2 separate regions of the Homo sapiens genome follow, and region 2 is linked to region 1. The links come from fine-mapping of genetic effects on gene expression. A gene starts in region 1. The other region holds a variant in brackets. All regions are shown on one strand. Distances are between the middles of the regions.

Region 1 (16,125 bases):
ATCTCAACTTACTGCAATCTCCGCCTCCCAGGATCAAGTGGTCCTCCCACCTCAGCCTCCTGAGTAGCTGGGACCACAGGCATGTGTCACTACTCCAGGCTAATTTTTTCTATTTTTGGTAGAGACATGGGTTTTACCATGTTGCCCAGGCTGGTATTGAACTCCTGAGCTCAACTGATCTGCCTACCTTGGCCTCCCATAGTGCTAGGATTATAAGCGTGAGCCACCATGCCTGTGCTGGCAATGACTTTTTAGATACAACAACAAAGGTATGATCCATGGAGGAAAATTGATAAGCTGGACTTTAAAATTAAAAATGTCTGCTCTATGAAATAAACTGTCTAGAGAATGAGAAGACAAGCCACAGACTGGGAGAAAATATTTGCAGAAGACACATCTGATTAAAGACTGTTATTCCAAACATTTAAAAATCTCCAAAATATACAAAAATATACATATACCCTTAAAACTCAACAAGAAAACAAACCAGTTTAAAAAAACTGGCAAGTCAAGCCAGGCATGGTGGCTCATGCCTGCAATCCCAGCACTTTGGGAGGCTGAGGCGGGTGGATCACCTGAAGTGAGGAGTTCGAGATCAGCCTGGCCAACATAGTGAAACCCCTTCTCTACTAAAAATACAAAAAATTAGCTGAGCCTGGTAGCAGGAGCCTGTAATTCCAGCTACTAGGGAGGCTGAAGAAGGAGAATCACTTGAACCTGGGAGGCAGAGGTTGCAGTGAGCTGAGATCGCACCATTGCACTCCAGCCTGGGCAACAAGAGTGAAACTCCGTCTCAAAAAAAAAAAAAAAATTGTAGATACCCCATAGAATGTACAACATAAAGAGTGAACCCTAATGTAACCTATGGAGTTTGGGTGGCAATGATGTATCAACTTAAGTTCACTGATTGTAAGAAATGTATCACTCTGTTGAAGAGATTAACAGCGGGGGATGCTGTGTGTGCTATGTGTGTGGTATGTGCATGTGTCAGGGTAAAGAGAGTGGTAGGGGACATATGGGTACTCTCTGTATTTTTTGCTCAGTTTTGCTATGAACCTAACAGTTCTCTAAAAAATAAAGTCTATAAAAAATGAAATAATTTTTTAAATGTACATGAAATACCAGTTCTCACCAATTAAATCTGCATATATTAAAAGGTATGACAATGCATTTTGTTGTCGACACTGTAAGGAAACAGACACACTCATATGTTGCTGGAGGGAATGCAAACTGGTAAGTCTATAAAAAAAGAAATAATTTTTTAAAAGTACATGAAATACCAGTATCACCAATTAAATCAGTATACATTAAAAGGCATGACAATGCATTTTGCGGTCAACACTGTAAGGAAACAAACAAACTCATACGTTGCTGGAGGGAATGCATATGGGTACAATCTCGTCCGGAGGGGAATGTGGCAATATGTAACAAAACTAGATATACATTTACTTTTGACTCAGCAATCCCATTTCTAGAAATGGACTCTGAAGATTCACCTCCAATAACATGAAAATATAAAGCATAAAATTACTCATAGTAATGTTTGTAACGGGAAAATATTTAAAATAAATATCTGTATGTAAGAAAATGGTGAATAAACTATGGTACATACATCCACACATAATGGAGTACTATGCAACTGTAAAAGAGAATGAGGAAAATCTTTATCAACTGATGTGGAGTGATTTCCAGGATAAATTATAAATTTAAAAAAGCAAAGTGTAAAAAAGTATGTTGTATTTTATGTAAGAAAGTAAAAATAAAAAATTATATATGTAGTTCTCCACTTGCCCCAAAAAACAAGAAACTAATGAGATTGGTTATCATTACAAGGCAGATAAAAATGGAATTGATGGCACAGGAAAACAGAATTGGGTGGAGGAGAAGAGTCACATTTCTCTGAGAATATGAATACACAGCACACATATTTTTACTTTTAGAATTATGTTACATTTTACATATTCAATACATGAATGAACTAATGAACTAAATAGTCAAGATGGAAGAGAAAAGCATAAAAACAAATGCGCCTGTGTTTCAAATAAATAACAACTACACAGAAGAGAAAAAAAAATAACTCTAACACAATATTGGGACTATGTATATTCAATCTAAAGATAAAAATAACTCGAATCAGTACAGATTTTCTCCCCTGTTGGGATAAGGGTACACTACTTAATGTGTATCCTAGGACCGAATAAATAAGTAAATATACTATGGATAATGTCACCTAGATTCCCCATTGTCAATGAAGAAGGCTACAAACAGAAAAGAGAAAGGCTAGAATGAACTCTGTAGTGTTTAACTGGAATTAGAAGTACCAGTATAAGTCAAGATTTTAAGGTTTATATAGAGAATAAAGAAACGTATATATGTGTGAAATTACGTATGTTTATTTTTTTTTCCTAGTAATGTTTGCTGAGAAGTCATGGAAACAATAAAATCCTAGTAGTAATGAGTATACCAAGCATTCAGACATGGGTTTCTAAATACCATTCTACATTGAAAAGAATCAAGACTCTTTGGAGAAATGGCTGTTTCCACGGTTTGGAAAGTATAAGATAAGCCTGGACCATCCTGATGTGTCAGAAAGTAAGGAAGTGCTCAAAAAGTGGTGCAATATGCCAGAAGGACCCACAATTCAGGATGGAAGGACTGCCACTGTACAAATCTGGAACAAGCAGAACATTGAAATAAGTAATAACAGTAATAAATTAGTCACACAATAAGAATCCATGAATTTGTACTCATTAAAAAAAAGTGTATAGAAGGGAAAGTTTTTTTGCATTAGAAAAGCAAACAAATATAGAAGAAATGATGGAATTAAAAATTTCACGATGTTCAATCAAAAGAAGAGTACTGTGCAAAAATCTACTGGATGAAAAATTTTATGAGAATCAAGATATTTACATAATCTGAAAATATCTCCCCACTAGATATTTAATAATTATAAATATAAAAAGAGTAACTTCACAGTATAGAAACCTGGAAGACACCACCTTAACCTAATGGTATCCTCAACTAAAGTGAACATGACCAGTAATGAGATAAAACATCATGAGCCTCCTAATATGATGCAAAGAGAAAAACATAACATCACTTCTGCGGTATCTTGCCAAAAATGTCTAAACTGAATCTGATCACGAGGGAACATCAGAAAAACCCAAACTGAGGGAAACTACCAAATAAATGGCCTAAATATTCAAAAAATGTCAAAGGTATGAAAGACAAAGTCTGAAGATATGTTCACAATAGGGACAACATTATAATTAAATTAAATGACTGATGCTGAATTAGATCTTGGTCCACAGAAAACATTTTTTTCTTTTTGTCTTAAACAACATGAGTGGAGCAATTGGCTAAGTTTGAATAAGGTCTGGAGATTAGATAATAGTACTTATTGTATGAATGTTAATTTCCTGACTCCGATAATGGTAATGATAATTTCTAGAGAATATCCTTGTTTTTAGTAAATATACAACTGAATATTTAGGACAGGCTTTCTCAATTAGGGTTCTAGAAAAGAAGTCCCCAAAGAAAATGTATTCGAATGACTGTTTTCTCAGTTCTCCTAGGGATGGCATGTAGCTAGCAGTACTGTACATGCATAGGAGAGCAGGATTCCATGGCTTGATTCTCTGTTTGAGAAGAGACATGTCTACAATTTATTCTCAAATGGCTCAGGGAAAAATCTATACATATGTATATGTGTATTGCTATGCTTTGAATGTGTCCTCCAAAGTTAATGCATTGGAAACTTCATCCCCAATTCAATGATGTCGGGAAACAGATCCTAATGGGAGGTATGTAGGTAACAGGGGCACCACCCTCATAGACTAATGCCATTATTTCAGGAGTCGGTTCCTCACAAAAAGATGAGTTTGGTCCCTTTCTGAGCACTCTTGCTTGCTCTCACCCTCTCTTTGCCCTTTTGCCATGAAATGACACAGCAAGAAGGCTCTCACTAGATGCCAGCCCCCGTCTTGGACTTTCGAATCTCCAGAATCATGAGCCAATAAATTTCTGTTCATTATAAATTACTCAGTCTATGGTATTCTGTTATAGCAGCCCAAAACAGACTAAAACGTTTGTTTAATAGACAGAGGCAAAATCATAAAGCAAACATGGTAAAATGTTAACATTTAGAGCATATGAGTGAAGGGTATATGGGAGTTCTTTGTACCATTTTGCAATTTTTTGTATATCTGTACTTATTCAAAATTAAAAGGTATTTTATTTTGGTTTTCAAAAAACATGGTGGCTAAAGATTGGTTTATTTTGGTGGTTAATACTGACAGTTTAAGCTCTGGATGCAGATTTTGGTTCAAATTCCCACTCTCCTCCTTTGTAGCTGTGAGAACTTGGGTTAGTAACTTAATTTCCTTCAACTTCAATATTCTCTTTTTTCCTCACAGAGTTGCTATGAGAACAAAGACACTGCCGGTACTAAGCTCAATGCCTAGGTCTCAGTAGATGCTTAATAAATGGTAGATTCTATTATTTTCTTAATTCTACCTTCACATGCACAAAACCACTAACATGTATTAAGCCCATTTTCTATGCCTGATTCTTGTGCAAAGCCTTGTTCAAAACCCACTTGCAATAACTAATAAAACAATTTGGCCAGTTAATGATTAATATGAAGATTATGCAAAAACTAGAAAAAAATTATGGAGAAATATTAGAAGGAAAAGGAAGAATTCCAACTCAGAATCACAACTAAGTAAAGATATGCCGGGATACAGACAAATAGCTGTTATAAGATGGGGGGTTCATAAAAGGTTTTGTCTTTTAAAATTTGTATTAGTGTTAAGCTCAAAAGGAGAATAGAGTGAAAATAAAGGATTCTTAGTTTTGTCACAGCCAGGCAAATCATTTACATTATTCCCTAAAGTTATCAGTCCAAGATGTCTTATTTGCCCTAAACAACCAATGAAGTGTGGGGCATTAAGAAGAAGAAAAAAAAAACTGAATAAATAAGGAAATAATTTTCCTATTCATATCCAAGCTTTTTTTAGATGTCAACACCTAAAAAATAAGTCTGGGTGTCAAACCTCAAAACAGATCATAAGGCCGGGCGTGGTGGCTCATGCCTGTAATCCGAGCACTTCGGGAAGCCGAGGCTGGCGGATCACAAGGTCAGGAGATTGAGACCATCCTGGCTAACACGGTGAAACCCCGTCTCTGCTAAAAAGTACAAAAAAATTAGCCAGGTGTGGTGGCGGGCGCCTGTAGTCCCAGCTACTTGGAAGGCTGAGGCAGAAGAATGGTGTGAACCTGGGAGGCAGAGCTTGCAGTGAGCTGAGATTGTGCCACTGCACTCCAGCCTGGATGACAGAGCGAAGACTCCATCTCAAAAAAAAAAAAAAATCACGACACTTCCCTAATTTAAAATACTGTTTTCTAGCACACTCAGAATAAAATCCAAAGTTTTTACTGCTCTACATAATGTGGCACCTCTGCGTTATCTTCAGCCTCACAGGCCATCTCCGAGCTTTTGCACTTGTTCCTTCTGCCTAGAATGCTCTTCCCCATGCAGCTTACTCCTTTATTGGACTCAAGTCTCTGCCTGAAGATCACTTCCTCAAAAAGCAGCATACCCTGACTACCTTATCTAAAATAGCCTGTGTTGCTTTATCACATTTTATTTCTCTCCACAGCACTTATCACCATTCAACTTTATGGTATACATTTTATATTTATTCGTTTGTCTTTTTACTAAAATATAACTTCTATTAGGGTTAGGACTTAGTCTTTTGCTTACTGTAATATCCCTACTACCTAGAGTACATTTGTTGAATAAATGAAAAGTGTGAACAAATACCAGAACAAAAAGGCAATCATTATCCTTGGACCCCCAGTAGCTGTATAACAGACTAGACCAGTAGCCCTGGCTGGTTCATCTAGCAAGCCCAAATACATCTTTCAAGTCTTAGCTCCAGGGTACCCTCCTTCAGGATGCTTCTCTTGCCCCATCCTAGGAAGAGACTAGTACTCTTTCCTGCCTAGGGTCGAAGTGAAAGGAATAAACTGGAACACGACAAAAGTCCAAGCAGACAGGCTAATTCATACAACTTGAGAGTTCATGGTTATCCTTAAAGGGTATATGGGACCAAGAGACAAAGTTAGTAAAGCATTATTTAAAAATTAGATGGTGTTTATAGGCCTTAGACTTGGAAATTTCTCATTTATTTTTCATTGATTACATGGATTATCTCATTTAGTCCTCCCAAGGACCCTATGAAATAGGTATTAATACCAGTGTTTGGATCTTATAGATGGAAAACCTGATGCTTAGGGCAGTTAGATAATCACCCAACAACTTACAAATAGTAAGCAGCAGAGCCAGGATTTCAATACCTATCTTCTGACTCCAGAGCCTGCCTAAGCATTAGGCATACTACCCTCTTTGTGCTACAAATCAATCAAAAAGCAATTACTGCAAGCCTAATGTGAATATGCATGCATGTTGAAAAGGAGTAGAAAATAGCCTTAAGTTGGTAGGATAGGGCTCAGTTTTATCACTCTGCTATCTTAGGAGCTAAGAAAGGGGCATTCTCTTTTTCCATATATCTTCTCCCATACTTTCCTGTCTTTCACCCTGCCCCACCCCACACCCCCATCCACATTTATACAGAAACAGAGCCTGGTATACCACTTACCGTAACAAGAAAGACTCAAGACCATCTTCCTTTTGGTTTCAAAAGGTCTCTAGTTCAGAACTATTCACAACACTCAATTCTTGCCTCTCCTAGAGGAAAAATCAATAATGTAGACGATGACCTTGTGAAATTTATAATTCATAATTTTTCTAGAGCTGGCCTAGAAAACTGGTCCCATTTCCTCTCCATTCTAGTGAGCATCCTTCAACCATAGCTTACCTCTTCCCATCTTTGCTTACACTGTTTCTCCTGCAGGAAGTACCTGCCACTGGTAGCCATCAGTTCCGACCAGCTCTAGACAAAATGTCAAGAATCTTTCTATTACTAACTGTAACTTCATAACAAAGCCCTAAGCCTCGTTTTTCGTTTGTTTTTTCTCCTTCTGCTAATTGTTTTTGTTTGTATTATCTCAACTCCTAAGATCAAAGACCCATTCGTCTACCACTACAAACCCCAAAGTGCATGTGATAAGTGTATATAATATAAAGTTATCTGTAATTCCATTTTCCAAAAAGAAATGGTTATAGGAAGATTAAACAAACCAGATTTTTCTGCAGATAGATTCAACTGCAACATAACTAATTTCTGCACTGAAGATGAAGCGAAAAATCCATTCAAGGTCCTTTTTTTCCTCGATATATATGAAAGATTATATTGCTTTGAAAAGTGCCTTGCAGTGTTTACTATCTCTAGGAACTACCGTACTAAGGTTCTCTTCTTTCAACTTTTCATTGACCATCTTTCAGTCCTCCGTCCGCCGTCAGCGGAGACCAGACCATGCTCAGTGTCCAGGAACAGGGGCTGCTCCCACTCGACTGTGGCCGTGGGTCTTGGGTCCCACCGCGCACCCATCCCACCCCTGGGCCCCGCAGGCCGCGCTTACCCTGGCAGCCGCCGGCGCCGCCCCTAGGCCTGGGGACAGCACTTCCGGTTACTCTCCGGACACTCGAATCTGGGCTTCCTGGCGGCCGCAGACTCTGCGATAGTAGATCTAAGGGCCAGGCTTCGGGAAGGAAAGAAAAGCGAACCCGGCACGGACAAGACCTAGGAGCAACTCCCTTCGTGCGCCTAGACTAGAGGAGTTGGGGCCAGGCCGCCCACAGAGCGCTTTAACAGAGCGCTTCAAGGGCCCACAAGGCCGGCTACGCAAACCCTTTCAAGCTGGCTGGGAAGAGGCCGGCGCAGCCCCACCCCCGCAAGTCACATGATCACCCCTCTCCGGCCACTAGGGCGTTCCAACCCCGGCCCCTGGGCCAATAGGAGCCGAGTCTTCGGAAAGGGGCGGGGCCCGGGGCGCCTGCGCTCTGGGAGCCCTCGGCGTTTTGGTGGGAGGGGGTCTTGCTGGCGCAGTGGAAGGCCGGCTGCGGGGGGAGGCGATCGCTGCCACCCTGTCTAAGAAGAAACGGCACCAACAGCGTTGCAGTTTATGTTACAGTTTCCCCAAGGCTGTTAACCGAGGACTCAAACCAGGAGTAGAGTCACAAAGATTAGATGCCACTGACCCTGAGAGAAACACCAGGAAAGATCTGGGAGAGATAGAGGATTCTGAAGCACAGTGGCAGCGCTGTCATCCACGAAGATGTGGCCAGCGAGATGGAAGAAATGCTTTTAAAAGTGGTGGACTTGTGTGGGTGGAGAAAACAGCAGCGAGAGAAAGTACTGTGGGAGGTTCCCCAGTCCTTGCTGATTATGTTTCTGATTTGGAATCAGCTAAGAGTAAATCACCTAGTGGTGGGGCTGGAACAGAACTCAGTTCTTTAGGTTGAACACTGGGTATTCTCCCAGCTCAATTGTTAAATTAAAAAAAACAAACCAACAAAAAACAGTTTTTAAATGTCCTCAGCTATCAAAGGGAAAAGATGAGTAGTAGGAATATGGAAAACTAAACCCTGGGCAGCCTGGCCAAGGACTTGGATTGTGAGCCAGTTGCTGAGGTTTAGTAATTGGGGAGCGCAGTCTCTGAGACACGTATTCAGTATTAACTAATCATGTTCCTACTAGTGGAATTCTTCCGCAGAGGGTCTACAGCTTATTCTACTTTCATGTTTATTTTTAATGAAACTTTCAAGGTCAAAATATTCCACTCAGGGTTGTCTTAATATTTTGAATAATAACATTTTGAGTGTGTAGCATGTATCAAACACTGTTCTAATAACTTTACACTATTGTCTCATTCAGTTGTAACAAAAATCGTGTGAGATATGTATTCTTTTAGGAGGAAACTGGTGCACAGAGAGATTAAGTAGCTTGCCCAGGATCACATATTACTGATGAAGCTGTAATGTGAACAGTCTGATGCCAGATTCTGTGCTTGCAGTCACTATACTTATGGCTACCTCAATAGTGGTGAGTGTATTGTGTAAAATTATTGGAATAAAAATTAAGCAAGTTGGATTCTGATCTCTGCACTGCATATAACAAGGTCTGAATATGTGTAGAATTGAACTGTTCAACCTTTTCTTTCAGGATACATTGGCCCAAAGTACTCTTTATTAATTGTTTTATTCAGTTAAACATTTATTGAGCACCTCCAATTAACAGGACACCATAGGCCGGGCACGGTGGCTCACGCCTGTAATGCCAGCACTTTGGAAGGCTGAGGCGGGTGGATCACCTGAGGTCGCGAGTTTGAGACCAGCCTGACCAACATGGTGAAACCCTGTCTCTACTAAAAATACAAAATTAGCCAGGCGTGGTGGCGCATGCCTGTAATCCCAGCTACTTGGGAGGCTGAGACAGGAGAATCGCTTGAACCTGGGAGGTGAAGGTTGCAGTGAGCCAAGGGCACTCCAGCCCGGGCAACAAAAGTGAAACTCCATGTCAAAAAGAAACAAAAACCAAAAAAACAGGACACTATGCTGTGTGTTAGGAATTAAAGGCCAGTGAGACTCAATACCACTCCTTTAATGGCTCACAGTCTGGTATGGAGACGGCAGGGGTTTTAGGTGGTGTGGTAGAGGTAGAAGTTGTATAAGGTCATCTGGGGGCATAGAGGTGAAGCACTTTGTAAGAACTTTGAGAAAGAGTCAGAAAAGACTCTGTAGGAGATGAGACATAAGGTGAGACTCGAAGGAATAGAAGTAAGGAGTTGGCTGAAGATGAGCCTGAAATGGAAGATGGAAAATAAGTACAGAGACATTTGAATGTGATTTCAGTTAGTGGAATTTATCTTATATGAAATGGGAAGCAATTCTTGGAATTTCAAGCTGTGGAAATAGGGCAATTATCCCCACATTTAAAATCTTTAGAAAGATTATTTTTAGTTTTAAGTATGAGGATAAAGAGTAAGAAGGAGCAGCCAGGAAATTATGAGGAAAACAAAAGTGGACTACGACAACCAAGGGAGGAGAGTTTCAGTTAAGAGGTTTTTGACCAGACACTGTGGCACATGCCTGTAGCCCCAGCTGCTTGGTAGGCATAGGTGGGGGGATCACTTGAGCCCAGGAGTTCCAGACCAAGCTTGGGCAACATACTTCTTGTGGTTCTGAAGAGGATCTGGCTTTGAGGATAGAGATGAAGGGTATGGAAAGACTATTGTGACTAGAGTTGAGCAAGTGGGAAATTGTGAACTGCAGCCCCTGGAAAGGTGCATTTCAGTATCTTGTTTCCTAGAAGCCAGTAGGTCTGAAACTTCTTTCTGAGATTATCCACTGGAAAGTAGATTGGTCCTATGGAGAGTGTATGTATCTAGGGTTGCCAAATTTAGAAAGAAAAAAGTACAGGAAACCCAGTTACATTTGAATTTTAGATAAACAATAGATTTTAAAAAAGTTTTTAGGGAATATATTTTTCCCATGGGACATACACTAAAAAAATGGTTCATTGTTTATCCGATATTTAAATGTAACTGGGCATCCTGTATTGCATCTGACAATCATATAAGTAGCCTTTGTATGGAAACATATTCTGTGGAAGCAGTTCGTTTATAAGGGGCAGCATTTGTGATAAGATGAGGCAGGGAATTGCAGTTTCCTAGGATTTCTCCTTCTGAGAGAATAAAGAGACATCACCTAAGAGGGTTAGATCATGTGAGTGACTGAACTAATGTGATAAGATCTGATTATGGGAGAGAAAGATTGAGTTATATCTTTAGTTCGGCCAAATATTTGGTAAGAATAAGGACATGGCGATTTGGGAAATAAGAAATATAAGTTTGGACTAATGTCAAGTAGAAGGATAAGAGATTGGAGATCAGGGAAAAGGAGCAGGATCAGGGGACAACATAGGTTTAGTGTATGAATCATATTGAGGTGGAAAGGTAAATTTGAGTAGAAAGTGACGTCAAATAGGTTACTTATATGATCAATTAATGTTGGTTGGATGAACATGATTAGGCAAGCAAGTCAGAGGCATGCAGGGTATGAGTTGGGGTTGGATAAAGTATGGATAGTTGATGAGTTGTAGAGGAAAGTGATCAATGGATTTGAGACTGAGGAGAGAGTTTTTTTTGGAAGGTGTAGATACATTGGAATTCCATTTGAAAACCCTTTAAATTCTTCTTAGACACCATGCAGTCTTTTTATTTTTCTAAATCATTTTCCAAAGTGATTTACACACTAAAAAGGAATACCTTAGACCATGCAATAAAGGACAGACAGATGATCTAAAGAACAGGACATAATCAAGATTTCAGTGGAAATTCCCAAGGTACTTAAGGAAACAACTGGGGTCAGAGGAAGGCTAAAGAATACTATGGCAGGTTTTGGCTATGTTAGAATTTTTCCTGCCGAAATCTAAGCTGAAAGTTTCCACGAAGGAACTCTGAAAAAGAGAAAGTCCTCTTCTGTGTCTCTACGGCAGGCATATTTGCGATTTTTGGGATCCTGATGCATGCACTGTTAATGGAGATTTACAGGAGTCAGACCCAAAATCAACGTTAGTGGCCTCAATTTTTCTTCATCTGCTGCAGCTTGTTACTGAGAGTTCTGGTGATTGTTCCGTACCTGTTACTCCAACTAGATTTTAACTTAGTACAGAAAAGGTCTTTCATCCATGTCATCTCTTCTTTTTTTCTTTGTTTTTTTTTCTTTTTGAGACGGAGTCTCGCTCTGTCGCTCAGGCTGGAGTGCAGTAGCATGATCTCGGCTCACTGCAACCTCCACCTCCCTCATTCAAGCAGTTCTCCTGCCTCAGCCTCCTAAGCAGCTGGGATTACAGGCATGCGCTACCAAGCCCAGCTAATTTTTATATTTTAGTTGAGTTGGGGTTTCACCATGTTGGCCAGGCTGGTCTGGAACTCTTGACCTCAAGAGATCCACCTGCCTTGACCTCCCAAAGTGCTGGGATTACAGGCGTGAGCCACTGTGCCTGGCTTTTTTTTTGAGATGGACTCTTGCTGTGTCGCCCAGGCTGGAGTGCAGTGGCACAACCTCAGCTCACTGCAACCTCCACCTCCCGAGTTTGAGCGGTTCTCCTGCCTCAGCCTCCCAAGTAGCTGGGACCACAGGCATGCGCCATCACACCTGGCTAATTTTTGTATTTTTAGTAGCGACAGGGTTTCACCACGTTGACCAGGCTGGTCTCGAACACCCGACCTCAGGTGATCTGCCCGCCTCGGCCTCTCAAAGTGCTGGGATTACAGGCGTGAGCCACTGCATCCAGCCCATCTCTTCTTAATTTACCTTTTCTCTCATACATTGAATCTATCTGGCTATTCACCATTATTCCTTTTCCTGAATGATGCGTGGCTGCCTTTTCTGTGTTTTCCGTCCAGCTCTCCAGCTTATCTGTTTTACAGTGCTCTACTTTGTCTTTCCATCTTGACTGTTACAAGTTCATAAGACAATACCTCCCTCCCTGAGCTGAGGTAAGAATGAAATGTAGTAATTAATGCAAAGGTATCATCATAGTGACTCGGCATGTAATAGATACCCATTAAAATGTTAGTTCTAGGGCTGGCATGGTGGTTCACACCTGTAATCCCAGCACTTTGGGAAGCCAAGGTGGTGGATTGCTTGAGCTCAGGAGTTCGAGATCAACTCAAGAGCAGCCTAGGTAATGTGGTGAAACCCCATCTTCACCTAAAATACAAAAATTAGTCGAATGTAGTGGTGCACACTTGTGGTCCCACCAACTCAGGAGGTTGAGATGGGAGGATCCCTGGAGTCCTCTGGGAAGTTGAGGCTGCAGTGAGCTGAGATTGTGCCACTACACTTCAGCCTGGGTGACAGAGTGAGACCCTGTCTCAAAAAAAGAAAAAAATTCTTTAAAGCAGGGGTCCCCAACCCCTGGGCCACATACAAGTTAGTTGCTTCTTCAGAACTGGGCTGTACAGTAGGAGGTGAGTGATGGGCAAGTGAGTGAAGCTTCCATCTGTATTTACAGCTGCTCCCCATCACCCGCCTTACTGCTTGAGGTCCACCTCCTGTCAGATCAGCAGTGGCATTAGATTCTCATAGGACCGCGAACCTTATTGTGAATTGCAGATGAGAGACATCTAGATTGCATGCTCCTCATGGGAAGCTAATGTCTGATGATCTGTCACTGTCTCCCATTACTCCCAGATGAGTATTTGAATTACATTTGTAAGCCTCACTGTGCTGTACCTTTTATACTCATAGACTCTGTATCTAAGTTAATGAGACATTTTATGTAAATCCTGCCCAGTGAGTCTAGTCTAGTTGCACAAAGACAAGCTTAGAGCTCCCACTGATCCTACATTATGGGGAGTTCTATAATTATTTAATTATATACTACAATGTAATAATAATAGAAGTAAAGTGCACAATAAATGTAATATGCTTTAATTATCCTAAAACCATCCCCCTCCACCATCTGTGGAAAATTTGTCTTCCACGAAACTAGTCCCTGGTGCCAAAATGGTTGGGAACTGCTGCTCTAAGGGGAACCATGCTCTCTGTTTCTTTTTGGATCCAAAGTTTTCTGAGCCCGTAGATGCCAAACAAGTGCAAAAAAATTTGAAACTTTTTTCTTTTTGAGTCTTTTTTTTTGTCTTTGTCTCTGTCTCTTGATTTTATTATATCTTTGTTTTTCATTTACATTCAGATTTCTCTTTTGCTATTTCTGTTTCCCAAGATTCCTTTCATTCAGCCCATCCTCAAGCAGATATACTTGGAGGACTAGCCTCAAGGGTACTAACACAACCTGAGGAAGGTAAACTGTAAGGAAGTTTAGGTGAACCTAAAGCATATTCCCTGAATAGAGTGAATCTTTCTGAGATTGCCCACAGTAGAGGTGACAGCACCTGAGTGTTTGAGTTACATTTGTAAGTCTCATTGTGCTGTACCTTTTATATTCATTGGCTCTGTATCCTAGTTAATACATTTTCTGTAAATCCTGCCTAGTGAGTCATGCAGACTCAGGTTTCAATTTAGAAAAGAAGGTAGTTTAAAAAGGATTCATTATCAGCTCAGATGAGCAAGTAAAACCTTGTATAGACCCTTGTAGTCCCTCCTCTTCTGCAGCTGAAGAACAATATCTTTAAGTTAACAGAAAGCATATTAATTGTCAGTTTATCAATCAGCAACTGTTTGCTGATGTGTGTAAGATAATAGAAGCCCTCAAAACAAATGGGAGAAACTTTTGCAAGTGAAGGAAAAAAGTAGAAAATAAAAATAAGAAGCAAGTAAAACATAGTCAAGAAATAACTTCTGGTTCAATGGAATTGTTTTGTAAGATACCAGTGATTCTTCTTTTTGGAGAACAATCATAAAGTACCTCAACCTCAAGCTAACCAAAAATCTAGGTAGACATTCTTGAACACAATTGGGGCAGTTTTAATTTATTCATTTGGTGAGTAGCAGACTCTCACCAAAGGGCTTTATGTGTGTGGGAAATCATGCCCCCAAATCGCTTTGGAAGAGGGAAGCAGCAGTTCTCAAGACAGATATGACCCTGTATACCCTAAAACAGCAGTCCCCAATCTTGTGGGGGCCAGGGACTGGTTTCATGCAAGACAATTATTCCACAGACTGGTGGGGCAAGGTGGTTTTGGGATGAAACTGTTCCACCTCAGATCATCAGGCATTAGGTTTTCATAAGAAGCACACCACCTAGATCCCTTGCATGAGCAGTTCATAATAGGGTTCGTGTTGCTATGAAAATCTGATCTGACAGGAGGCGGAGCTCCGGTGGTAATGCTCGGTTGCCTGCCACTCATCACCTGCTATGGCAGGTCACACATTGTTGCTAGTCTGCGCCCTGGGGTTTGGGGACCCCTGCCCTAAGAGGAATGTGAATTAGTTTTTTGTTGTTGCTGTAACAAGTTACCACAACTTAGTGTATTAAAAATATATTAATAAATGTATTATCTTAAAGTTCTGTAGATCAGAAGTTTAAACTGGGTTTCACTATGTTGGCAGTGTGTGTCCCTTTCTGGAGAATCTGTTTCCTTGCTCTTTCTGGCTTCTAGGCTTCCTACATTCCTTGGCTTATGACCCTCTTCTTTCATCTTCAAAACAAGCAATGAAAGATCAGTTCCTTCTCATGTCACTTCGTTCTAATCCTCTGTCATTTAATTGCTCTCTGAAACAGCAGAGAGAGGTTGTTTACTTTTAAGGATTCATGTAATTAAATTAGGCTCACCTGGATAATCCAGGCTAATCTCTCTAGCTCAAACTCCTAACTTTAATCACATTTGCAAAGTCATTGTTCCCATGCAAAGTAATAGATTCACAGGTTCTGAGGATTAAAATACGAATATCTTGGAGGGGGGCATTATTCTGCCTATGCAGAATTTTAATTATACTTTCCCCATTTTCCTTCTTTCTTGACTGATTTTTGTCACGATTTGGAAAATTATAAATTTCCCAAGAAATGCCAGGAAGGAATTTCCATATGGAAACATGGCAATACAGCCTGGAAAGCACTATGGACAGTTGCATGGACCTCACAGTAAGGAAATCTAACATAGGCTTCAGGCTGGGGAGAGCTTTATAGACAATGGATGTCATAAATAGGTTTTTGAAGAATATGTAGTAGTTATCTTTGTGAAAGTTAAGGGAAGAGAGGATTGGAGCCATTAATTCACAGGACTGTGATTAAACTGAGACATACACATTTCATTTTTAGGGGGAAGTTAAAAATAGTTTAGTATGAGTTCAAATGTAGGAGGAGAGGGATATAAAATTTGAGAGTTAAGCATTGGACCTGTGTAAGTCTATTCTCATGCTGTTAATAAAGACATATCTGAGACTGGGTAACTTATAAAGGAAAGAGGTTTAATTGACTCACAGTTCAGGATGGCTAGGGAGGCCTCAGGAAAGTTAGAATCATGGCAGAAGGGGAAGCAACCATGCCCTTCTTCACATGGTGGCAGCAAGGAGAAGTGCCAAGCAAAAGGAGAAAAAGCCCCTTATAAAACCATCAGATTTAGTGAGAACTCATTATCATGAGAACAGCATGAGGGTAACTGACCCCCATGATTAAATTACCTCCCACAGGGTCCCTCCTGAGACATGTGGGGGTTGTCGGAACTACAGTTCAAGATGAGATTTGGGTGGGG
Region 2 (16,125 bases), 41 kb before region 1:
AAGCAGGAAGGTAAGACTCCTATCTGAGCTTACATATTGAAAAGAGAAATGCCGGCCGGGCGCGGTGGCTCAAGCCTGTAATCCCAGCACTTTGGGAAGCTGAGCTGGGTGGATCACTTGAGGTCAGGAGTTTGAGACCAGCCTGGCAAACATGGTGAAATTCCTTCTCTACTGAAAATACAAAAATTAGCTGGGTGTGGTGGAGGGCGCTTGTAATCCCAGCTACTTGGGAGGTTGGGGCAGGAGAATCACTTGAACCTGGGAGGCAGAGGCTGCAGTGAGCTGAGATCGCAGCACTGCACTCCAGCCTAGGTGGCAGAGGGATGCTGTCTCAAAAAACAAAAAGTAAATAAAAATAAAAAATAAATAAAATAAAAAGAGAAGTGTCAATAGCATGGGCAGAAAAGTTGTGGAAATTTCCCAAAGGTTGTTGCTTCTGGGCTTGCAGCTGTGGCTGAGCTCTTGTCTTATATCCCAAACTGATGGAAAATGAAGGTGCTGGTGCTCTGACAGGTCCTTCTCCCACTGAACCCTAGTCAGGGGGCATTGGTTCCCTAGGGGCACTTCTGCTGCTTAACAGGCCCACTCTAAGCAGGACACTCTGACTGAGGCAGCAGTGAAGAGGTTTCGAAACCCAGGCTTACTCTGTGGTGCTGTCTCCTTTGAAGGAAAATCATGTGCCCTGAATAAAGGATCCTGGGTGTTCAGGACCAAGTATACCCCAAAAGACTGATGGCACCAGTGGTCCTACTAGGGCCTGCTTCACTGATGAATGCTCCAGAAATGGAACTCCTGACTGAGCTAGACAGACCTATCCTAAAGCACCAGTGCCTTAGGATTGGCATTTCTCCAAAAGGAAGGCTCATGGGGCTGTGCTATCAAACGCTGAGCCAGTGGCCTCATTGTCAGGTGACTGTGTGGGACCCAAGTGGCCTTCTTTCTTTCTTTTAGATTGGGCTTCTATACTAGCCTAAATATAGATGGATCAGAAGATCCAGAAGGATCTGTATATGTAGGAGAATTAAGGGTTGGGATGCTTACAGGAATTGGTTTAGAGCAGGGATGGTTGGGGACTTGGCAGACCTGTCAGCCTGAGGGGTCAGAGGTGGCTTGGTGGGGTCAGTGATGAGTAATGTGGTAGAAGCAGGAGTCAACCAGGAGTAAGTGACTGTTGGCCTCAAGTCTGAAGAGGTGCCTGGAAGTGTCTCTGACTTCGAGGACACCAAAGGGGTCAGCAAGCTGGATGTCTCCTGAGGCAAAGCAGCCACACAGGTTATCCCTCCAGTGGACTATAGGAAGGCCAGTGGGCCTGGGGTATTCTGCATCACTTTCAAGCTCTCCAGCTTGGATTAGTGCTCCCAAATGGAGGGGTAGTTGGAAATGGTGCAGTCCCAGCAGCAGGTAGGGTGACAGAAAGGATGGGCTGAGTGGCAGGCACAATCTCAGGATAGTCATTGGTGGCCTCAGTCTGCTCCTTTATGACTTCGTTGACCTACCAGAGTGCAGCTTTCTTGTCCAAGTTTTCTGCAGTGACTGCATAACCAAGTTGGGGAGTTGAAGACAGGATACCCTCCCCCTATGGCTTAGAAGGCTGTAGCAAAGTTTTGCTTTCATGAGGCCCAGAACTAACAGATGTGGGCGATGTATTCCTTGAGTTTTGCTTTGTTTTCTTCTGTGAGGGAGTGTCTGCAGCCTGAACCTCATTGTTTAATCCCTATACAGCAAAGTGTGGACAGATGTTTTTCTGTGCCTTTTTGTTTGTTTTTGAGAGGGAGTCTTGCTCTGACGCCAGGCTGGAGTTCAGTGGCATGATCTAAGCTCACTGCAACCTTAGCCTCCTGGGTTCAAGCTCTTCTGTGCCTTTTTTAGGGGAAGAGGATAATGAGTACTTTAGACATCAGGAGGGATGTGAAATTGCAAACTGGGACCTCCTCTCTTCCCTGTCTTTGAAATGTTTCCAGGAGAGCTGTAGGAGCTGCCAATGTCATTTCTGTTGGAGCTGAGGGGACCACTTGGGAATATGCTGGTCAAGGGGCTCTTGGAGGGATGATGAGACTTATTCTAGTGGTCATCTGAGCTCTGGGAATGGAGGTTTGGCTTCAAGGGACTCGGGCACCAAATAAACAGGGATCCCATTGGCTATCACAGTTGAATGTGAATATCTGGTCTCCTGGAGACTTGTTTTCCTGTCCTGGCTCAGGGAATATTGGGTCTTCCACTTTCATTTTTTTGCATTCTCTGAGGGCCTCGGTTTGATTTTTTGTGCCATAAGGGTCTGGAAGCTTTAAGGGTGCTTAGCTCAAAGTCGGCTTTGGTACTGGAAACTGGCTCACTTGGATGAGGTCAGGGGAAGCAATCTTGATGGTCACCAGGCTCCTGCAGGGTGACCTCCTGGCTAATCTGTGGAAGGGAGTGGGGCGAAACACATCAATGTATTGAACACTGCAGGGTCGTAGAGAGCCAGCGGCTGGCGGGCTTCTCCGAAAGCTCCTGGTCCCCCTAGGAAGGCGGCGGTGAGGGATCAGGCTTCTCCATGTAGAACTACCTTTGGTGAGTGATGTGGCTGGACCTGGGTTTTCGAGCTGGATACTGCCTCCAGGGAGTTTTCATTGGCTGCCGATGAGACCCCGCGCGAAGTGCACAGTGTTCTGGTGACAGGTGACCGTCAGGGATGAATGATGTGCACGGGTCTTCCGCGGCCCTGGAGCCCTTCTAGACAGCCAGCGCCCAGCACATGGGCACTAGGGACCACTGAGGTATAGCGACAACCCCAAAGAGCGTCCCCAGCCCCAGCTCTGCCACCCCCGTCCCCACCAGTTTCTCGTCCAGCCATCTCATTTATCACTTGCCTTAGCGAGGGCTTGGGAGACACCAAAGGAAAACAAACCCTGCGAAAGAGGAGCCCGGGCATCAGGACTGATAGGCCTACCCGGCTGCCTCATCTCCCGCTCCTGCTTAACTGCTGGAAGTCTCAGATTTGGGTTCCCGGGCACACGGGAACTCTCCCTCCGCGCTGTCCGGACCCTAAAGGCAAGTTGCCGGGGAAGGTTCCTTAACAAACAGCGGGCTTCCCGGTAGCCGGGTTCCCAGCCCAAGAACCTTCTCATTCACCTGCGCAGCGCCGCGGGACCTCACCCTTCCGGTGTGGTGCCAAGATCCAGACTGCCTGACTTGTTTTCGTGCCGCCGGACGGTGTGTTTAATCGATGCTGATGTTTTACTCTCTAGTTTGAGGACCCAGCGACAGGGCTTTAGCCCCTCTTCCTGCAGCTGCGGATAACAGACATTGGCTCTTTGGGAATTGCAGCGCGCTAGCCCAGGAGCGCCGCGCTGTCTGGGGACTGTGGGGCAGTGGTCCCTCGGGGCGGACAGAGCTTGGGTACAGGGGGCTCGCGCTCCCTGATCCCGGCTTCAAGGTTCAGCTTGAAGAGAGTCGGTTTACCTTTCCACCCACACCGGGCCCTGGTGCGGGTCGAAGGCCACAGGCTGAGAATTTGCTGGGAGGGGTCGGGAAGAAGCGTAGGAGCGCTGACCGCCTCCCCTTCCTCTTTCTCTGTCTTTGCGGGCGGCGCTACTTCCCTTTCCCGAATTCCGAGCCCCCCTCTCCAGGTCAAATGCTCGGCGCGGCCTTTCCGAGACTACCCGAGAAATTCTGACGGTGAGCGCCAGACAGCGGCGTGGTAGCGGCCTTCCAGGGAACTGCCTCTCGGGAGAGGAGGGGACGGGCGGGGAGAGGCCCTTGGCCCCTCTCATTCCCTGAGTCCCTGCGGCGGCGCCCCTCTTGGAGCTTGAGACCTCAGGGATTGAGGATCGCGGGGAGCCTCGGACACAGCAGGCAGGTGGTGTGGAAGGTGCCACCTTCATTCTTCGGTCTCTGGGGGCTCTGGCTTTTTCTTCTTACTGCCCATCGCTGGCGATCCCGGGGGGAAAGGGTCAAATGGCAAACTCTCTCGCAGGAAAATTCAAGTTTCCAGGGTTTTTGCCCCACAGGTCTTTAGAAATTTTTCGTTGAGTGAAAATTCTTCCTGGGTCCCTCTTCCTTCACGTCTCTCTCACCTATGACAACTTCAGATTGTGCACCAAGGATGGGAGGGAAGTTATCGGGAAAGGACAAGATTATATTTAGAATTCACTGGGGAGGTGGTGATTTCTGAAGACAGACCATGGGATCTTGGTCCTGTGCTTCTCAGGAGTCAGATGTGGAGCTGCTTTTGCCCTTGCTCTCGCACTGATCTCCCATAGGATCTGCATCTCCAGCCTCTCCAAACTCCAACTCATCCTACGCGGGACATCAAACCCACCTTTATACTGCCCAACGATAAAAAAATTGTTATTTCAAGGGCTCCTCAACCTTTGGATACAAAATGAGTTATCAGTAAAGCTAATTGGGATATTCCCAACTCACAGACCCCAGGGAGCAGCAGGGGGTGAGGAAGGATTTAGCAGCAGGACATCAACACCGGGGCGAGCAGTGCAGGCCTGATGGAGATGTGGCAGGGAGACACCTCAGTGCTGGAAGTCTGGATAAGGCACCAAGACCTCAGCACAGATCTGGGGTGTGTTCACAGTGGGCTTCTTTATTAGAGTGGAGAGTGGAAAATGGAAACAATGGAAATATCCAAAAAAAAATTGGAGTGTTTAATTAATATAAAGATAATTTAGATAAAGTCATGTGATGGGAAAACAGACAAGACAGACTGTGTGTGTGAGTGTTCTGTATCTTGTCCCTGATACACAGTATATTATGTAAATCATACTTCTATTTATATTTTAAAATGGCTATTGATATATAGATAGAGATGTGTTTACAAAGGCATAAAAGAACAATTGAAAGGATATAGATTGAACTGTAATAAAGTGATTAACTCTGGTTTGGGACTGGATTGGGAGGAATGGCAATGTTATAGTGGTATATTGTTCCAAATTTTCTACTTGTATTATATCTTTCCAGTAACAAAACAGTGAACATAATTATAATTTTATTTATTTATTTATTTTTGAGACAGAGTTTTGTTTTTGTTGCCCAGGCTGGAGTGCAATGGCGCGATCTCGGCTCACCACAACCTCTGCCTCCTGGGTTCAAGCGATTCTCCTGCCTCAGCCTCCCGAGTAGCTGGGATTACAGGCATGTGCCACCATGCCTAGCTAATTTTGTATTTTTAGTAGAGACAGGGTTTCACCATGTTGGTCAGGCTGGTTTTGAACTCCCAACCTCAGGTGATCCACCCTCCTCGGCCTCCCAAAGTGCTGGGATTACAGGTGTGAGCCACCACGCCCAGCCATAATTTTAATTTTAAAGGCAAAGAAAAAAAGAGTTCATTTTGGCAACTTGGAAGAATGGATTGGAAACCAAGAGTTTGGAGGCTGAGATGTGAAACAGTTCATTGGAAGAGTCAACATTATCCTGATATCAAGATCAAATAAAGACAGTACAGGAAAAGAAAAACTACTACTATCCTTCATAAATATAGACACAAAAATTCCCAGCAAAATAATAGGAATTTGAATCTGGCAATATATATTTAGAAATACAATTAGGAAAAAGGTAAGGATGTCCCTCTCATCACTCCTTTTCAGCATTTTACTGGAAGTTCTAGCTAATGCAATAAGACAAGAAAAGAAAATATAAGGTATACAGATTGGAAAGGAAGAAATAAAAACTGTCTTTGTTCACAGTATTGTCTATGTAGAAAATCTGAAAGAACTGAAAAAAATTCTTGGAACTAATAAGTGATTATAGCAATGTTGCAGGATATAAGGTTAATATACAAAAGTGAAATGTTTTCTATATACCAACAAAAAACAAGTTGAATTTGAAATTAAAAACACAATACCATTTACACCCACCCAAAATGAACATTAAATGCATACCACTAAGTGAAAAAGGCCAATTTGAAAAGGCTACATCCTGTATGATTCCAAATAATGTATATGACATTCTGGAAAAGGCAAAACTATATGAAGACAATGTAAGAACCAGTGGTTTCTAGGAGTTAAGAGTAAGGGAGGGTAGTAGGGAGGGATGAATAGACAAAGTACAGAGGATTTTAGGGAAAAACTGTTCTATATGATACTATTATGGTGGATACATGTCATTATACATTTGTCAAAGTCCATGGAATGTACAATACCAAGAGTGAACTTTAATGTAAACTATAGACTTTGAGTGATAGTGATGTGTCAGTGTAGGCTCACCAATTTTAACAAATGTACCACTCTGGTACAGGATGTTGATAGTGGAGGAGGTTCTGCATAGTGGAGGAGGTAGCAGGTATGTCGGAATTCTCTGTACTTTCTGCTCAATTTTGCTGTAAACCTAAAACTTCTCTAAAAAATAAATCTATTTAAAAACGCACCACTGGTAAATGGGGTTAATCCCTTAAGTGCAAGGCTGTTTGAATATTTGAAAATCAATCAATATTCTCTACTACATTAACAGATTAAAAAAGAAAATCACATTATCATATCAATGAATGTGAAAAAGCATTTGACAAAAATCAACCACCATTCATGATTAAAACTTTCAGCAAACTAGGAGGAGTTTGCTGTTCCTAGCAACTATTTTTGACCTAATAAATGACATCTACAAATTATGTATATTAGACAGCATATTTAATGGCAAAAGACTGAATGCTTTTCCTGAAGTTCAGGTACAAGTTAAAGATGCCCACTATCATCACTCTTATTCAATGTCTTACTGATATTTTTGACAGTGTAATAAGGCAAGAAATTGGCATAAAAAGTGGAAAGGAAGCAATAAAAAATGTTCCCATTCACAGATGACATTTCTGTCTACATAGAAAATCCAAGGAAATCTATAAAAAGTTCTTAGCACTGGCTGGGCATGGTGGCTCATGCCTATAATCCCAGGACTTTGGGAGGCCCAGGCAGGCTGATCACCTGAGGTCAGGAGTTCAAGACCAGCCTGACCAACATAGAGAAACCCTGTCTCTACTAAAAATACAAAATTAGCCGGGCTTGGTGGTGCATGCCTGTAATCCCAGCTACTCGGGATGCTGTGGCAGGAGAATCGCTTGAACCTGGGAGGCAGAGGCTGCAGTGAGCTGAGATTGCACCATTGCACTCCAGCCTGGGCAACATGAGTGAAACTCCATCTCAAAAAAATAAAAAATAAAAGATTCTTAGCACCAATAAGTAATGAGTTTGCAGAATACAAATTCATCATAAAAAAATCAATACTATATATACTATCATTGAATAATTGGAAACTAAAATTTTAAAACATACTGTGTACAGAAGCTCCAAAATATTAAATTACTTAGATATAAATCTAATAAACATGTGCAGAGTCTGTATATTAAAATTTACAAAGTGTTATAGACCTAAATCAAAGAACAGATAAATTAATGGAGGGATATACCATGTTCATAGATTGGAAGACTAAACACAGTTTAGATGTTAGTTCTCACAATCTGATCTATGAATGTAACCCAATTTAAATTAAAACCCATCATTATTTTGTTTGTATATGTATACAAGATGATTCTGAAATTCATATGGAAAGGCAAAGAATCAGAATGGCCAAAACAATTTTGAAAAAGAACACAATTGGAGATCTCAAACTAGCTATTATAAAAATTATTATAAAGAAACAGTCATTAAAAGTTTGGCAGCTGGGCTCGGTGGCTCACGCCTGTAATCCCAGAACTTTGGGAGGCCAAGATGGGCGGATCACGAGGTCAGGAGTTCGAGACCAGCCTGACCAACATGGTGAAACCCGGTATCTACTAAAAATACAAAAATTAGCCTGGTGTGGTGGCACATGCCTGTAATCCCAGCTACTCAGGAGGCTGAGGCAGGAGAATGGCTTCAACCCGGGAGGCAGAAGTTGCAGTGAGCCAAGTTCATGCCACTGCACTCCAGCCTGGTCAAGGGAGCAAGATTCCATTCCCCTCCACCCCCCACCCAAAAAAAAAGTTTGGTATTAGTGAAAAGATAGACTCACAAACCAGTGAAATAGAACAGAGAGTCCAGAAATAGACACATACAAATATACATAGTTGATTTTTTTTCCTTGAAAATTATACTACTTTATTTGGAGTAGAGACAGAGGAAAGAGTTTGGAATGATATTATCAAAAATATGTGTGTGGTATCTAGAGCAAGGCCATTTACTATGTATAATGGAAATGAATAAGAAAACAACTGTGAACTCATACAAAATCAATAATTTTAATCA[T/C]AACATCATAGCTAAAAATATTAAGAGATTTAAGAATAATTCACTTATTCTTTTAGTGTCAAAAACTCAAGGGACTCCATCATCTCCTCATTTTCTTTAAAAAATCTGTCTGCATATTAATGTTCTAATCATGTCAATATAGAATGAAGAAAATATTTAAAATTGACAGACTGACATTATAGGAAAGGATGCTTTCAGCCGGGCGCAGTGGCTCATGCCTGTAATCCCAGCACTTTGGGAGGCTGAGGTGGGCGGATCACGAGGTCAGGAGTTTGAGACCAGCCTGACCAATATGGTGACACCCCCGTCTCTACTAAAAATACAAAAATTAGCCAGGCGTGGTGGCGTGCGCCTGTAGTCCCAGCTACTCAGGAGACTGAGTCAGAAGGATCGCTTGAACTTGGGAGGCAGAGGTTGCAGTGAGCCAAGATCACGCCATTGCACTCCAGCCTGGGTGACAGAGCAAAACTCGTGTCTCAAAAAAAAAAAAAAAAAAAAAAGGATGCTTTCAAAATTATACACGTTGTGCAGAGATTTAATGCTCAGTTCAAAGATGAACAACAGAGAGCATGTACCTGGCCTTATTTCTCCTGGTTTTCAAGGAATCATGATCTTTGATAGGTTTCTTGAGAAATGCCACAAAAAAGAACAACAAAAACGTTCTGGAATTTTCTATTCTTTAAAAAAGAAAATGGACCAAAAAATAATAAAGTATAACTTTTTGCCATAGAAAAGATAACAAGCAAAGAACTACAAAGTCAAACACAGATTCAGAAGACACTTGCTCATGAGCAGCTTTGTCTTTTTTAGCCGAATCTACAGCCATAATTCCTGATTCAGATATGTATTTTTATTGAAGATTACTTTTTTTTTTTTAACATACTAACTGAATCACAGGCCGTTTACAGTTAAAGAAGTAGCAGTGGGTAAACAGATGTCACTGGAAAACAGTACAGATCACAAACAGTTCAGGGATGAAACTCTGAATGTAGCATCTTCAGTGAAACTTGAAAAGGCCTTTTTGAACACACACTGTTACGTGAGTGTGGGCAATTGATTTTTGATAAAGGTGCAAAGGAATTCAACGGAGAAAAAATAAAGTATTTTGTTGTTGTTGTTGTTTGTTTTTTTGAGACAGGGTCACATTCTGTCATTCAGCCTGGAGTGCAGTGGCATGATCATGGCTCACTGCAGCCTCCATATCCTGGTCTCAAGTGATCCTCCTACCTCAGCCTCCCAAGTAGCTGGGACTTACAGGTGTGCACCACCATGCCGGGCTAATTTTCATTTTTTTGTAAAGATGGGGTCTCATTATGTTGCCCAGGCTAGTTTCAAACTCCTGAGCTCAAAGCAGCCTCCTGCCTTTGTCTCCCAAAGTGTTGGGATCACAGGCATGAACCACTGCACCCCACATAAAGTATTTTTAACAAGCGCTGTTGAAACAATTCAGCATCCGTATGTAAAAATAACAAGCCTTCACCAAAACTTCATGCTGTATATAAAAATTCACTTAATATGAATCATAGACCTAAATGTAAAATCTAAATTAGCTATTAAAACTTTTAGAAGAAAGCATGAGAAGAATTTTGTGAGCTGACATTAGGCAAAGACTTCTTAGATATTAGATACTAGAACTAGCCTAACATTTCTTTGGTGGAATGTTTATTCAAGTCCACTGCCCATTTTAAAATTAGTTGTTTTTGCTACTGAGTTGTAGGAGTTCTTTACACATTTTGGATATTAATCTCTTATCAGAGATATGATTTGCAAATATCTTCTACCATTCTGTAGGTTGTCTTTTACTTTCTATGATAGTGTACTGTGATACACAAGTTATTAATTTTGATGAAGTCCAATTTATTTATTTATTTTGCTGCCTGGACTTTTGGTGTCTGTCATATTTATGAAATCGTTGTCAAATCCAATGTCATAAAGATTTCCCCCAATTCTTTTTCTAAAAGTTTTATAGTTTTAGCTCTTGAGTTTAATTTTTGTGTATGATATAAAGTAAGGGTCTAACTTGAATCTTTCACATTGTGAACAAATGTGAACCTGAAAGAGCCAATCTTTAAGATGGACCTTAAGTGGCTAATTGGGCCTAGATTTAAAATACAGCCAAGTGGCCTTTTATTGATTAGAGGTCACACCGGTACTCTGAGATTCCTTGAAAACGCTATCTCTGTTCAACTTAGGAACTTTCAGAGCTGATCTGAGCCAACCAATCAGAGCTCACCTGTACCACCCAATCAGGGCTCAGCTGTATTGATGAATCAGAACTCAGCTGCATCAACCCATGGGAACTAAAGCAAATTTCAAACTTTAATTTGCATAAAGGGACTAATTGGGAACCTTGGCGGGAACGTTTGCTATAAAACCCTCTCTTTGTCCTCTGGAACACACCTTTGTTTTTAAAGGCTGCTGCATCTCCCCATTTGCAAACTGTTCACTGGACAAAAGTCACTTTCCTGTAAATTTCTTTTCAGAGAACTTTTGTTCACAATATGTGGGTCTCTAGCACCATTTCTTGAAAAGGCTCTCCTTTCCCCATTGAATTCTCTTGCCACCCTATCAAAAATGAGTTAGTCATATATCTGAGGATTTATTTCTGGACACTATTCTATTCCATGGACCTATATCTTCATATGCTACTACTATACAGTTTTGATTACTGGAGTGTCATAGTAAGTTTCAGACAGGTCAGGAAGTTTGAATCCTTTAATTTTATTCTTATTTTTCAAGATTGGTTTGGCTGTTAATGGCTCCTTGCAATTCCATAAGCACTTGAGAATCTGCTTTTCCATTTAGGTGAAAAGGGCTGTTGGATTTTTAATAGAGATTTCTTTAAATCTGTAGATCAGTTTGGGTAGTGTTAGCAGTGGAATATTAAGTATTCCTATCCATGAATGTGGGATGTCTTTCCATTTATTTTTTGTAAATTTTTTTCAGCAATGTTTTGTAGTTTTCAGTATACATGTCCTTCAGCTTCTTGGTTAGATTTATTCCTAAGCAGTTAATTATTTTAGATGTTATTATAAATGGACTTGGTTGTTAATTTCCCCTTTCTGATTATTCACTGTTGGTGTATATTAACACAACTGATTGGTGTGTGTTGATCTTGAAAACTGAAATTTTGCTAAATTAGTTTAGTAGCTCAAGTAGCCTTTTGTAGATTCTTTGAGATTTTCTTCATAGAGGATTCTGTTATCTGTGAATAGAGATGGTTTTACCTTTTCCTTTCCAATCTGGATGCCTTTTATTTCTTCTTCTTGTAATTTCTTCTATTATTAACATATTATAGCAGTATAATTATTTGTTACAATTGATGAACTAATTATTACATTATTATCACATTATTAACTAATAGATGTAGCATTCATATTTCCTTAGTTTTTACCTAATGTCCTTTTTATGTTCCAAGATCCAATCCAAGGTACCACATTTAGTTGTCATATCTCCTTAGGCTCCTCTTGGCTATGCCAGTTTCTCATACATATATTTTTAGTTTTGACGTCTTTCACAGTTTTGAGGAATGAAGATGATCAGGTCCCAGTGGATCCTGGATTCAAAGTCCAGAGTGCTAATCATTACACCAAGAGGTCTGGCAAATTGACCAATTTTTACTTTTATGGATTGTAATTTTGGTGTCAAGTCTAAGAACTCTTAATTTTTAGCACTAGATCTCAAAGATTTTCTTCTGCTTTTTTCACAAGTTTAATAATTTTACTTATAGAATATTACACTTAATGCAAAAGCCCACCAACCAAAGGCCAGCAGGGAGCACACTTACAGATAAACAAAATTAGATTTATTAAGCTTCCTGTGGTAAACCAGAATGCACCCCAGAGGAACCTGCAGAAATCAGTAAGGAAGAGATGGGAAGTTAATTTTTTTAGAAAAATAGGGTTTGGCCTGTACTAGCTGTCTTCACCTCCAGTTGAAGACATTGATTTAGCTGTTTGCTGATTTAGCTTCTAGAAGAGGTTCAAATACCAATGGTGAATATGTCAGTTTTGGCTTAGCTTGATTGATAGTTTTAGTTTTTATTTTCAGGTATGAACCTTGAACAAACAAAATTAAATCAGGGTTATCCAAAGGAGTTTCCAAGAGAACTATAAGGGGTATGGGTAGTTCACAAACAGAAGTTAAAATATTGTGTGGGCCTGGAGCAGTGGCTCATGTCTATAATCCCAGCACTTTGGGAGGCTGAGGCAGGTGGATGGCTTGAGCCTAGGAGTTCGAGACCAGTCTGGGCAACATGGCGAAACCCCATCTCTACAAATAAATTTAAAAAAAAAATGAGCTGCGTGTGGTGGCGCATGCCTGTAGGCCCACCTACTCAGGAGGCTGAGGATCACTTGAACCCAGGAGGCAGAGGCTACAGTGAGCCATGTTCACACCACTGCACTCCAGTCTGGGCAAAAGACAGGGACTTTGTTAAAAAAAAAAAAAAAAAGAAACAAGGAAAGAAAGAGAGAGAGAGAAAGAAAGAAAGAGAAAGAAAGAAAGAAAGAAAAGAAAGAAAGAAAGAAAGAAAGAAAGAAAAAAGAAAGAAAGAAAGAGAAAGAAAAAGAGAAATGAGATAAGGGAAAGTGTTACTAGATTAAGGGTATTATAAAGATGAATAGTGGATATGTAAAGATGAAATAGATAGGAAAGGCATAACATCTTCAGAGCCTTTAATTTTTCTCATAGAGTATAATATGAATACCACTTAATGATGAAGGTATTTAAGGCCAGAGACAAAATCTTTTTTGCAATCAATTTGTTGACGGTTATTGTGTCAGTCTTTATATCTGAAAACCAGTATTTTTATTTTAAGAAGGACACAACTGTTTCAGCAACCATTAAAATATTATATTTTTTGACTTCATCTTTTAATAAAATTTAAAAATGTTAATTAATAGACTTTATTTTTTCCTTTTTTTTTTTTTTTTTTTTTTGAGACCACATTTCGCTCTTGTTGACCAGGCTGGAGTGCAATGGTGCAATCTCAGCTCACCACAAACCTCCGCCTCCCGGGTTCAAGTGATTATCCTGCCTCAGCCTCCCCAGTAGCTGGGATCACAGGCATGTGCCACCATGCCCAGCTAATTTTGTATTTTTAGTAGAGACGGGGTTTCTCCATGTTGGTCAGGTTGGTCTCGAACTCCCAAACTCAGGTGATCTGCCCGCCTCAGCCTCCCAAAGTGCTGGGATTACAGGTGTGAGCCACCACTCCTGGCGAATAGACTTTATTTCTTTGAAGTACTTTTAGGTTTATAGAAAACTTGAGCAGAAAGTACAGAGAGATTCTATATGCCCCCACACCACCCACAGTTTCTTCTATTAATATATTACATTTGTGTGATACATTTATTACAACTGATGAGCCAAGATTGATATATTATTATTTAACTAAAGCCCATAGTTCACATTAGGGTTCAGTCTTTGTGTTGTACATTATAGGGGTTTTAACAAATGTATAATGTAATATATCTACCACTACAGTATCATAAAAATAGTTTCACTGACCTAAAAATTCCCAGTGCTCTATCCATTTGTCCCTCCCCCAACTCACCCCCATTCTGGAGAACATTGATCTTTTTACTGTCTTCTAATAGTTTTATCCTTTTCAGAATGTCATATAGTTGAAAGTATATAGTATGTAGCCCCTTAAGATTGGCTTCATTCACTTAGAAGAATGCTTTTAAGGTTCCTCCATGTCTTTTTTGTGGATTGATAGCTCATTCCTTTTTATTTGTTGAATACTATTCCATTGTATAGATGTACCACAGTTTGTTTATCCATTTGCGTAGTGAAGGACTTCTTGGTTACTTCCAAGTTTTGGCAATTATAAATAAAGCTGCTATAAACATCTGTGTGCAGGTTATTGTGTGGACATATGTTTTTAACTCATTTGGGTAAATATTAAGGAATAGGATGGCTGCATCATATGTTAAGATTATGTTTAGCTTTAAAAGAAACTGCAAAAATGTCTTCCAAAGTGGCTGTATCATATGGCTTTTTCCTATCAGCAATGAATGAGAATTTCTACTGTTGCATATCTTGGCCAGCATTTGGTGGTGTCAGTGTTTTGGATTTTTGACATTCTAATAGTGTGTAATGCAATTTCATTGTTGGTTTAATTTTCAGTTCCCTAATGGCATACAATGTTGGGTATCTTTTCATATGGTAATTTGTCATCTGTATATCTTTTTTGGTGGTGTCTGTTTAGATCTTTTGCCATTTTAAAAATTGGGTTGTTGTCTTAGTGAATTTTTTTTTTTTTTTTTTTTTTTTTTTGAGAGGAGTCTCGCTCTGTTGCCCAGGCCGGACTGCGGACTGCAGTAGCGCAATCTCGGCTCACTGCAAGCTCCGCTTCCCGGGTTCACGCCATTCTCCTGCCTCAGCCTCCCGAGTAGCTGGGACTACAGGCGCCCGCCACCGCGCCCGGCTAATTTTTTGTATTTTTAGTAGAGACGGGGTTTCACCTTGTTAGCCAGGATGGTCTCGATCTCCTGACCTAATGATCCACCCGCCTCGGCCTCCCAAAGTGCTGGGATTACAGGCGTGAGCCACCGCGCCCGGCCCCTCTTAGTGAATTTTTAAAGCCTTCTTTGTATATTTTGAATACAAGTTCTTTATTGATACATGGTTTGCCAGCATTTTCTCTCAATATGTGGCTTGTCTTTTCATTCTTTTAACACGATCTTTCACAGAGAAGTTTTCAATTTTAGTGAAGTTCAGCTTACCAGTTATGTCTTTCATGGATTGTACTTTTGGTGTCGTGTCTAAAAAAAATCACCATTGCCCGGGCGTGGTGGCTCACACCTCTAATCCCAGCACTTTGGGAGGCTGAGGCAGGTGGATCAACCTGAAGTCAGGAGTTCGAGACCAGCCTGACCAACATGGTGAAATCCCATCTCTACTAAAAACACAAAATTAGCTGGGCATGGTGGCGCATGCCTGTAATCCCAGCTACTCAGAAGGCTGAGGCAGGAGAATTGCTTGAACCCAGGAGGCAGAGGGTGCAGTGAGCAGAGGTGGCACCATTGCACTCCAGCCTGGGCAACAAGAGCAAAACTCCTAAAAAAAAAAAAAAATCATCAAATCAAGTGTCCCTAGATTTTCTCCTACATCATCTTGTAGAAGTTTTATAGTTTTGTGTTTTACAGATTAGGCCTATAATCCATTTTGAGTTAAATTTTGTGAAAGTTGTAAGGTCTGTGTCTAGATTTCATTCTCTTCCAGTAACTCTCCTATCATTATTTTGGATATTTATTTTGTGTTTCTGCAGTATTAAATCTCCTTTTCCCTCTATCTCATATCTTCTCGTGGCTTGGTTTCTTCACTCAATTCAATGGATCATATCACTCAATATTTTTCTTGGCCAGGCGCAGTGGCTCACACCTGTAATCTCATCAAATTGGGAGGCCAAGGCGGGTGGATCACCTTAGGTCAGGAGTTCAAGACCAGCCTGGCCAACATGGTGAAACCCTGTCTCTACTAAAAATACAAAAAATTAGCCGGGCATGGTGGCACATGCCTGTAATCCCAGCTACTCGGGAGGCTGAGGCATGGGATTCACTTGAACTCGGGAGGCAGAGGTTGCAGTGAGCCCAGATTGTGCCATTGCACTCCAGCCTGGGCAACAAGAGAGAAACTCTTGTCAAATTTTCTCTGAGAAAATGTGCATTTGGGATAGATTTTTGAGACCTTAAATGTATTTTTGTCACCCTCACTTTTTTTTTTTTTTTTTTTTTTGAGACAGGGTTTCACTCTATTGTCCAGGCTGGAGTGCAGTGGCGCCATCTCAGCTCACTGCAACCTCCGCCTCCCAGGCTCAAGCGATTCTCCTGCCTCAGCCTCCCAAGTAGTTGGGATTACAGGTGCACACCATTACAATCGGCAAATTTTTGTATTTTTAGTAGAGACAGGATTTCACCAT

Evidence for each region.
Region 2: its variant is fine-mapped to the expression of ZNF322 in whole blood (INTERVAL, PIP 0.99).

What each region holds. Positions count from the first base shown.
Region 1 is chr6:26,651,896-26,668,020 of GRCh38, forward strand. It overlaps ZNF322 (zinc finger protein 322), which reads right to left and starts at 7,851. Exons shown (of 4, transcript NM_024639.5): 1 at 7,546-7,851; 2 at 6,663-6,751. RefSeq lists enhancers at 7,281-7,781, 7,502-7,551, 7,562-7,751, 7,782-8,282, 7,982-8,041 and 1 more.
Region 2 is chr6:26,610,800-26,626,924 of GRCh38, forward strand. No RefSeq gene overlaps it. Among named protein-coding and RNA genes, the nearest start is that of ABT1, 22 kb to the left of the region's middle. The variant T/C (reference allele first, on the strand shown) is at 8,199.